2 separate regions of the Homo sapiens genome follow, and region 1 is linked to region 2. Evidence: fine-mapped QTL for protein levels in blood plasma. A gene starts in region 2. The other region holds a variant in brackets. All regions are shown on one strand. Distances are from middle to middle.

What was found. A credible set is the group of variants that fine-mapping cannot tell apart. PIP is the chance, under the fine-mapping model, that this variant and not a neighbour inherited with it causes the effect. The UK Biobank Pharma Proteomics Project read protein levels with antibody pairs (Olink). The fine-mapping took linkage between variants from a reference panel, not from the people measured, so its PIPs are less certain.
Region 1: its variant is the best candidate, but not a certain one, in a credible set for the plasma level of the GFRA2 protein (UK Biobank, PIP 0.90).

The regions. Positions count from the first base shown.
Region 1 is chr8:21,684,029-21,689,390 of GRCh38, forward strand. No RefSeq gene overlaps it. Among named protein-coding and RNA genes, the nearest start is that of GFRA2, 100 kb to the right of the region's middle. The variant G/A (reference allele first, on the strand shown) is at 2,926.
Region 2 is chr8:21,786,013-21,791,342 of GRCh38, forward strand. GFRA2 (GDNF family receptor alpha 2) reads right to left here and starts at 2,863. Exons shown (of 9, transcript NM_001495.5): 1 at 2,108-2,863. The coding sequence starts at 2,147.

The DNA of each region.
Region 1 (5,362 bases), 100 kb before region 2:
ACGCTCACCACGGTGGTTGTGCAAACCTCCCACAGAGATGTTTGATGAGATTAGTCACTTTCTGCCAGGGTGGTTGGTCCATGCGTAGGAGACTTCATGACCTCTGATGCTGGGCAGTGTCTAGGTCAAGGTGGTGACTCAAGTGTGCCCTCCTCCAGGGAGGGAGGCCAGGCGGGGGCTGAGTCATTGCTTCACATGGCCCCAGAGGTTGGCTTCCCAAGAAATGCTGTCTTGAAGGAGTGGGAACAGGCCAGCGTGTAAGGTGCCACGCACAGAGCAAGCTCTAAGGTGGCAGTCCACAGCTCTGGACTAGAGGCTCAGAGAAAAATTGAAGCAACCAAGCATGTGGCGGTGTTTGCTGAAAGGGAGATGAATTCTGCCTCCTTTCAAGTCATTTTTCCCCAGGCCGGTGAGTTCAGGAATGGCTGCCAGTCACAGAATCACAGAATCCCATTGCCGAGGGAAGGTTGGGGAGCAGCCCCTCTGACCTCTCCCTCTGAAGATGAGGGCAGGAGAGTCCAGGGAGGGTAAGTGACTTGCCCACAGCCATGCAGCGCTCTCAGGGGCTTCTCTGTGCACTCAGGACCCTTGTCCCCTCCCCAGCCACTGGGGTGGCAGCTCCATTTGCTCTTGGCCACAAGTTCTCCGCAAGCACACAGAGAAACCTTGGTGCAAATTAGAGAATGATGCCCCCTCCTCGGGGCTGAGGCCCAGGTTGGGTGCACAGATGGGTGAGTTGAGGGTGGCTGGCTTTCAGCCCCATTCGCCCTGCTTACCAGATGCCCCTGATCAGAGTACAATCTCACAGTGGCAAGCAAAGTCCCCACATTCCAGCCCACACCTATGTGTGCCTGGTCCACAGGCTACCTGCCTTCTCTCCTTGCACCTCTGGACCGCATGCAGGACGGTTCCTCCCAGCTTTCTCCTCCACCAACTCCCATGTGAGTTCACCTCCCTTTGCACAATGGGCCAGTGTGCCCTCTCTCTTCCTCCAACTTAAGGATGATTTCAGCCCTGTCACCCATCAGTCACTCCCCGCTGCAAACCCTCAGAGTTCCAACTGCCTGGGGTGGACAGCTTGGTCTCAGAGGTCATCTAGAGCAGGGGTTGGCAAACTACAGCCCATGAGCCAAATCTGGCCTGTGCCTGTTTCTGTAAATAAAGTTTTGTTGGAACACAGCCATGCCTAGTCATTGACATTGCCTATGACTGCTTTGGAACTACAGCAGAACAGTTGCTAGTTGCAATGGAAATGGCATAGCACACAAGGCCTGTCATTTTCACCATCTGGCCCTTTACAGAGAAAGTGTGCCCATCCCTGACCTAGAGCAAACTTTCCAAGGCTCAGAGAAGTTCAGTGACCTAGCTGATGTCACCAGCTGCTGGATGGCAAAGCCAGCATTTGAACCTGGATCCCCTGATACTCCTTCTGGTATATTCCAGACTCCTTGAGAAAAGAAATGACTTTACTATGTCATCAGACTCTCACCCCGTTGCCAAACTTTTTGTTGTTGTTGTTGTTTTGAGACGGAGTCCCACTCTTTTGCCCAGGCTGGAGTGCAGTGGCGTGATCTCAGCTCACTGTAACCTCTGCCTCCTGGGTGCAAGTGATTCTTCTGCCTCAGCCTCCTGAGTAGCTGGGATTACAGGCACACACCACCACACCTGGCTAATATTGTATTTTTAGTAAAGACAGGATTTCGCCATGTTGGCCAGGCTGGTCTTGAACTCCTGACCTCAGGTGATCCACCCGCCTAGGCCTCCCAAAGTGCTGGGATTACAGGTGTGAACCACCACGCCCAGCCCCTGCCAGCCTTTTCTCTATACAGAAAAGCACACAAAGGAGAAGTGGCTCTACTTAGAAAACATCGAGGTGGCTCAGAACTCATACCCTCCTGGGGCTCTCCCTGGAGGAATCTCCTAGGAGCCCGAGGTAGCAAAGCCCACTCCGCTTTTGCATCAGGCCTGACAGGGCAACCCCATGCCTGCCCACCTCCCATCGGTGTTGACATTCCCTTCAGCTCAGCTCCACATCTGATCAATATTTATTCACCATTTTGAGCTGGTGCACTTGCTCCGGCAGCACATCCTCTGCCTGCATGCGTGGAGAGGAGGCAGCCAGTCAAAGGTACTCCAAAGAGCGTGACATTTGCATCTTCTGTAGCCACTGTCCCCAGTGGCTCACAGATCACATCAACTCTATTTACCAACACAAGGAAGTTTCTTTTTTCTCTCTCTCTGTCTTCTCTCTTCCTGCCCTCTCAATTCCACTTGGCAATGCTTGCAAGAACACATCCCAGGGGCCTGATCACAGTCATTTTTTCGTCTGCCATGGGGAATCCGTGAAAGCTTCTTAGTCCACAGAGAGGAGGAGGAAGGAAGAAGATCCAAGCATGGGTCCCAGTGCAGCTTCTCTCAATGCCTAAAGGAGCCCGGTGGCCAGCAGGTGCTGAGGAGTCCTGGAGGCTGGGGCAGGGTGGCCACTGGACCGAGGGAGTGGCTGAGCACCCCTGCATGCCAGGGCATATGGCAGGGTACTGCATTGAATCCTGACACCACTCCTTGGAGGCAGGGACCACTATCTCCATTTCACAGATGAGCAAACTGAAACTCAGACTGGACGTGGTCACCCCCTTGGTCAGTGGCTAATCTGGAACTCAAACCCAGGTCTGCCTAATTCCCAAATTTACAAACCTCTTAACCATGGCGCCCCCAAGGTAAGAGCTGTCCAGGCAGGTCCAAGCAAGCAAGATCCTAGCTGGTCGGTCTCTTTCCCGGAAAAGCCAGCTTCCAGTAAAGCCATTCCCAGCAAGGTCATTATCAATCCCAGCAAAATCAGGATGGCAAGCCCTGAAGTGGAATGCCACCCTCATCCCCCTACCCCACTGGAAAGGCTCTGAGCAGGGACCTGTGTCCTTGGGCACC[G/A]CCTTCCTCCCCACTCCCTCCTCCCTCGTTTCAAGTCCACACCATACTTGATTTAATGAAGTCACTTATAGAACTCCCCCCTCATTGCTCTGTGGGCTCCCTTGTGAAGCCCACAAAGGTATACTCAGCCCTTCATCTGTGGATTGTCTGTCACCGCCGACCTGCACAAGCATGAGGCTGCTGGAGACGGAGGAGAAGGAGCAATGATAAAGCCCAGTTAACTGGAGCACCCCGTGGTCAGCACAGGCAGAGCACACAGGTGGCATGTGTGACTCATTTCAGGGTGACAGCCTGGCATGACAGTTACAGCACAGGGCCCCGAGCCAGCCTGCTAAGTTTGTGTCTGAGCACTGCCACACCCCGTAGCATCTCGGGGCAGAGAGTAACCTCTCCACACTTCAGTGTGCTCGTCTGTAGAATGGGCTGCAGCACCAGCCTCACTGAATCCTAATGGGGATGAAATGAGGTAACAGTCATACAGTTTTGGAATGATGTCTGGCACATGGAGAGGGCTATGTAAGCATGAGTTAATTCTTAAATATATATATTTTTAAGTATCTACATTTGGTTTTGGTTTGGTTTGCAGTAGTGCTATTAAAATCCTCCTAAAATGTTTGATACCATTTTTCCGCTCTGGAAGGTACAGCACAAAAACTCCACTTCACACTAAAAGAGGAATGTGGCAAATATGTCTGGTTAATTGACACTCTGCATGGCCTTGATTGTGTAAACAACATCTTTGTGAGGTTTTCAGAGCCCTTTCTATTTACTCACTTGCTTGAATGTAGGAGGTAGAGTGATGAAGCCATACTGCTGAGTTTTTAGAACACACATCAGACCTTAAAGATTCAATGTGGTCACCTCGGCAGGCTGGGATCACCCCCATCGCTCATGACGTTGGAGGTACTCCTTGCAGGGGAGGGGATGTGCTGGGCCGGAAAAACCCAGCTGACTGCTTAGTCAGCCTCAGCAGCCTCTGTCCATCTCTGTCTCAGTCTGTCTCCTCTCTTCCAGAGCTCGTTTAGAGGTGAAAAGTACTTGAATCATCCAATACAATTTTGTAGGTGAGGCAACCAAGATTGAACAAGATTGCCTGAAAGTCACCGTAAATGACTAGAAGGCAGCCATTCCACCATGTAAACCCACCACAGAGAATGTCATCAACCTTATTTACCAGTTTGGCTTCTAAATGACTTTGGATTTTCCTAAAAAATTTAATCCATTTTTAAAAGATGAATGGGCCAGTCACGGTGGCTCATGCCTGTAATCCCAGCGCTTTGAGAGCAGAGGTGGGTGGATCACCTGAGGTCAGGAGTTCAAGACCAGCCTGGCCAACATGCCGAAACCCCATCTCTACTAAAAAAACAAAATTTACAAAAATTAGCTGGGTGTGGTGGCAGGTGCCTGTAATCCCAGCTACTTGGGAGGCTGAGGCAGGAGAATCGCTTGAACCTGGGAGGCAGAGGTTGCAGTGAGGCAAGATCGCACCACTGCACTCCAGCCAAAAAAAAAAAAAAAAAAAAAAAAAAAAAGATTATCTACCCCTACTAAGACTCTAAAAAAATGGGCAACAAACAGGCGATGAATCTGTTTACTTGTATTAACACAGTATGGGCCAGGAGCATGGGTGGGTCACACCTGTAATTTCAGACTTTGGGAGACTGAAGCAGGGGATCCCTTGAGGCCAGACAATTAGGATCAGCCTGGGCAACATAGTGGGATTCCATCTCTACCAAATAATAAAATGAATAGGGTGTGGTGGCACACACCTGTAGTTCCAACTACTTAGGAGTCTAGGGTGAGAGGATCACTTGAACCCAGGAGCCTGAGGTTGCAGTGAGCTATGATCACACCACCACACTCCAGCCTGGGCAAAAGAATGAGACCCTGTCTCAAAAAATAATAATAAAAATATTTAAATAAATACACAAATTTTTTAAAATATGCAGTAAGTGACCAGCCTCAGCATCCTTGGGAGGGGCAGCCCAATTTCAACTCACTTCACAGATCAGAAAATGCTGGTAAAGAATTTCTCCAGCTGGCAGGGAACACTGGGGCTTCAATCCTCATGAGTAAAGGAAAGTCTTCATCTTAGGCATTCGACAGTCTGTGGCTGGGAACTAGAGACAGGTGCATATGTATGGATGCACACGCACACACACACACACACACACACACACACACGCCCCTTCAGCATGAAGTGAAGCCATCGGTGCATGCACACAAACACATTCACACAAAGCCCCTTTGGCAGAAGTGAAGCCATGGGTGTGTGCGCACACACACACACACGCACACACACACACACACACGCACACACACACACACACACAAGCCCCTTTGGCATGAAGCCATAGCAGATGGGCTATGAGACCCTCAGAGGCAGGAACCAGCAGGCAGCCGACACTGGGAGGCTAAACCAGAGACCCGGTGGGCT
Region 2 (5,330 bases):
TTTCAGTATCTGTGGTCACTCCACTCAGCCCAGCTTTAGAAGGGGACTTCTCGAGGGAAGGAAACTGAAGGGCTGTGGAGCAAGGGGATGCTGAGCCTGCTGCTCTTCTGCTCTCACCCCCGCCTCTCAACACTCAGCCTCCAGGGTTGCAGACATTGGGTTGGGCCTCTCTGGTCATCTCCCATGCACACACATACACACCCACCACGAGCAGGAACCCCAGCCACTTCTGAAAAGGAGAAAGGTGGACTCCTTAGCCTGCCCGGCTGGAGAAAGCCTGCCTGCAATGACCAGGGGCCCACACTGCTCTTCTCCAGCCCCCGACCACAGATGGTGCCCACACCTGGGAGCCCTGCCCATGCTGGGGTATGCAGCTCAGCAGTAGGCAATCTGGCTGTTTTGCCTGAAATACAATTTTTTTTTCACCTTGGCCCTGATCATGCTTGGACCCAGAAGGCTGGGTTTTCAAGCTAGCAGTGGGAGAAAAAGGTCAGATTTTATAGTAGCCCCTTCAGAATGAGAGTCCACTTGCCAGGGTTGACAGGAAGGGCTTCGGGATCACAGCGGGCCCAGAGCAACTTCCAGCTTCCTAGAGGAGCCCCTCCCACCCCAGAGAGAAGCTGCCTCTGGCTGAGGGAGGTAGGACCTCTGAGGCCACACCCTAGAGCAGGGACTTGCCCCCTTGGGGACTCGCACCTGGCGGGAAGCAGAGGGGACAGGCAGAGAGTCCAGAGCCTGTGTGGACACCCAATGACTCCGGTCCCCTATCCTAGTCTGGCGAGCACTTCTTAGACCACGCACATCCTCCTGTAACCAGCTCCTACCTCCCCACTCGTGGCCTTCCCAGATCCCCTACTGCAGGAGGGAGAGGGTGAGATCATGACCCCGCTGGGCAGCCTGGCTCAACACTGGCTACACAGCAAGCCAAGGTGGTAGAACTACACCCTCACTGAAGCAGACGTGTGCTCCTTACAAACACACTCACACACACACACACATACACAGTAGTTACCCGGCTCCCTCTATGGGAGCGTCTACTCCCTGGCAGCAGCCCTGCCTGGGACTCCCGGTGGTGCACAGCCTTGCAAACAACCGCCTTTCCTCACCTCCCTCCGGAGATTGCCATTTCCCAAGCAGCTGCGATTTCACCTAGCTTTAAAGGGAGAGAGGAGCTGGGAATTCTGTGTGGAAAAGAAACTGCGTGGGGCTCAGTGGCGCCAGGCAGCCTCTCCTCCCTGTCTTGGAGGCGGCGGGGGGGGCAGTGGGGGGGGTTTGCAGAAGGAGCAGTGGTCTTTGTTCAGACCCGTTTTTCCTCCCTCGCCTCCCACCCTCTTCAACGGAGAAAGCAAACTTTGGCCTCCCTCCCGCCTCTTCCCACCAGCCACGGGGGTCCGCGGCCCCCAGAGGTGGAGGAGGGAAGGCCGGGAACGGCTGCTCACAACCCTCCGCTCCCGCCCACCCATCTGGCTCGGGGCTCGGTGGGGAGAAACTTGAAAAGTGTTCCGGGGAGTGGAGCCGCCGGTTAGGGGCTCAGGGCGTGGGGACGCGGGCTCCGTTTGCCAGGCGCGGCTGGCAGGTGGGGAGTGACTGCCAGCGCTCCCCGCGCGATGTCCAAGCGGGAGCCGCCGGAGAAACCCGCGCCCTCCACCACGACCGACTCGGGGAGCAGACCAGGAAAGGCGGACCCCGCAGGACTGTTCTCTCCCCGCCTAGGAGCCTCTCTCTCCCTCCCTTCTTGCAGATCAAGAGTTGGATATTTTTTTTTCTTAAGTTGCCGCAATTCGAACCCATTATTTCGGGGGAGATGCGCGCTATACTGGCGTGTGAGCGAGCGCGGGTGTGTGTGTGCGTGCACAGTGTCTGCGGGGCTGGTTCGGATGTTGAGTCTCCCTCCCGATCCCCCTGCGTCGCCAGCCAGCCGCGGCTCCGGTCCCTCGTCCGCGTCCCTGCCGCCCGGCCCCGCTCGGTTCGCCAGCACCGGGCCCGGCTAGCTCCGCGGCGCGCTCTCCCCGCCGACCTCCCGCCAGCCCCCCACCGGCGCTCCGCTCGCCCCCCGCCTCCCCGGCTTCTCGCCTCCCCCTCGAGCTCGCCGCCCGCAGGTACTCACCTAGAAAGAAGAAGAGGCAGAAGACGTTTGCCAAGATCATGTTAAATAAATCCCACCGTTTTTTTGTCTTTCTCCCTTGGGTAAAAAAAAATAATAGTAGTAACAACAACAATAATAATAGGCAAGCAGTGGTAATCAGCCCCAAATCCAATGCGGAGATCCCAGCTAGTCCACCCGATGAAGATCCCGAGTCCTGCGATTCTCGCCTCTGGCTGGAGGGGGTGGGGTGAGAGGCGGGCGATGGGCTGCTGCCTCTCGACGCCCCCCTTGCCCGCTACAATCAAATATACGCGTATCTGTGTATCGGCTTTCTAAGCCAACAGCCCAGTCCTGGGGTCAGCCCTCCCCTCCAATCGTCCGGGAAGGCGTGAGTCCCCGCGGGTCCAATTCCCCTGCGCTTCCCAGGAGGGGCCTGGGGAGGTGGGGAGAGAGGCGATTTGCGAGTGAAGGGCTGGAAGGAAGCGGCGAGGGAGGGGGTCGGAATAAAATGCAAATAGAAAAGAAATCCACAGACGGGTGTCAGCGCCCAAGAACAATCCAGTCGGAGCTTCGAGGACGAGAGACTGGAGTCGCTTCTTTCGCACCAAGACGAAGACAAGATTCAAAAAAATCTTCTCCCGCTAACCCTTGCTCGGCTCACTTTTTTCTAATGGAATTCCAGTGACCGTGTGTCTCTGCGTGCGTGTGTCTTTCTCTCTCCTCTCTCTCTCTCTCCTCTCCCTCGCTCGCTCTTTGCTCTCGCTCTCTCCAGCTCTCCCTCGCTCTCCTCTCTCCCTCCCCCTTCTCCCACTCTCCCTGCTCCTCCCTCCGCCCGCCCCCTTCTCCCTTCGCGGCTCCCTCGCCCGGGCTCTCGCGCCAGCGCCCCTCTCCTCCGCCCCGGGCTCGGCGCTCGGGCTCCCAGGCGGCTGGCGGCGCGGGGCGCGGGGCGCGGGAGCGCGGCGGAGCTACGATGCTCTGCAGCGGCGGCGGCGACAAGGCGAAGGCGGTGGCGGTGGCGGTGGCGGCGGCGGCGGCGCCGGGGATCGCGGGCCGAGAGGAGAGCCCAGCCGCCGGCTCCCTCGGCTCAATCGCCCGCCCTTCCTGGGACTGACCTGCTGCCTTGGCCGGAAACTGACTGGCTCCCCCGGCTACGGCTCGGGCTCGAACCCACTCAAGCGTCGGCACCCTCCTCCTCCTCCCCCCGCAGCTCTCCCCACCCTGGGGACCGGCTGCGCCCTCCAACCCCCACTGCCCCTGCCCCCGCCCCCTGCGCCGCTGGGTCTGGGAAGCCTGGGGAGCTGAGCTGAGGCTGGAGGGCGCGGAGTCCGTGGGGCCCGAGCCATCCGGGGGCTCGGGGGGCAGGGCGTTAGAAAAACCCCAGCCGGTGGCCCGGGTCTGAGGGGGGCTCCACCCTCCGTGGGCTAAGGCGTCCCTGCGCCCAGGAGCCGAGGCCGACAAAGCGTCTCCCCGATGGTGCCAGGGAAAGGAATTATCCCCTTCGGCGCCGGCCCCGCGCGCCCCCGAACCCAACGCATCCTGCCGGCCCCGGCCTAGCCCCGCGCGCACATACACGTGTGCTCTCCGCGCGGACCTCGGGAACTTTGCCCTCACGCCCGCGGCGCGCTTGCCTCCCGCCCGCCCCGGCCTCCACCCCTTCGAGATGCCCCTTCCCCAGCCGGTCTCCCCTCCCCCCGGCTCGGGAAGAAGCCTGCTGGGCCAGGGCGCCCTGACCACCTCCTCGGAGGCCGGCAAACCTGCCTGAACCGCCCCAGAGGAATCGGGCAGGGGCTCGCACCCCACCCCGGCAGGAGGGCCCCGAGACCGACCCGGGCCGGGGCTCCGCAGCCGGCTGGGCTCCGAGGAGCTCGTCCCGAGGCAGCTCCCGGCTCCCTAGGCTCCGGGGTTGGGGGGTTCCTCCTCCCCTAGCCGGGAAGGGGGCGATTGATCCATCTGTCGGTGGGCCGGGCTCACCGGCGTGTTTTAGTCGCAGAATTTACAATAAACGCCCAGAAGGACCTAAAAGGAAGCGTCTGGCTGGGAAAGGGCTGGAGGAGAGGTGCGGCTGCGGTCACGTTCCGGCGAGAGCGGGAGAGGCGCGGGGTCGCGGTCGCGCGAGGGCTCACACCCACGCAGCCCGGCATCCCCCGGCCCTCGCGCCACGTTCCTCGCACTCAGCTCGGCGCGCACACACGGTGTCCTGGGGTGGGGTACACGCAGCGCCTCAGAAACTTTTCGTGCTGCCCAAAACAATCTGGGCTGCACGTAACATGAATTTGATAGTACCGTTTAAGATGCATTCTTAAATAACAAGACTCTGGAATCCAGTAAATGCTAGAAATCGACTTGGACGAGAAGGGAGGGGTCACTAACAAAACCAGCAGCCTTAGCTATTGGGAAAGCTAGAGGGAGCAACTTCCATCTTGAGGATTTAGGCGGGAAGGCGGCTGCTCCCGGCCTTGGAAGCACAGAGAGCGAGTCTCCTGTGAACGCCTCTTTCCTGTGGTCCGTCCTGGGGCATCGACCTTCCTCCCTCCATCTTCTCCCCCAGCCATCCAGTTGTGCCTGCTTCGAGCCTAGGCCCTAGCTGGGTAGTGACGAGTCTGGGACAGAGGGCTTAGGGATTGGAGTTGGGGAAAGCCCCCTTCAGGCCTGCCCTCCCTGTCATTCCTCCAAGCCTCTCATGTTCTAGGAAGTGACTTCGCATCTGACAAGGTCTCTTGGCTTTTTTTCCAAAAATTGGGGAGCATAAGGAACCGGCTTTGGATAAGTGTAGGTTAAAAGATAAAACTTGACAGGAATTACACTGCCAGGCAGGCTTGGCCTGGAGGCCCGAGGCTGGGAGCCTGGCCTAAATGAATGTCCCCCCTCTCATCTCCTCGACTTCCAGGGTCTTCTGGTTGTCCAAATACTCCCCACCACCACCCATTTCGGAATCTCACGCAGGCCTTCCCCCTTCCAAGGACCCTGCTCCAAACTCCAGAATTTCTGCTCAGCATATCCCTCTCCCCTTCCCCACAAAAAAGAATTTCACTTTCTTTTAACTTCATTTGAGCATAATGAGAGAAATTCTCTGAATCATATATGTAGTTCTCCCCTCCCACCTATCCAGAAAATGGGGCTGAGAAAGCAGCAATGAAGCCCTGGGGATGGTTCTCACTGAGCTCCCACGGGAGTAGGAAAGAGGATTCCGGTAGCAGGAGGTAAGTGGCCCTTCTGCGACCCAAGACCACCCAGCCATCCCAAG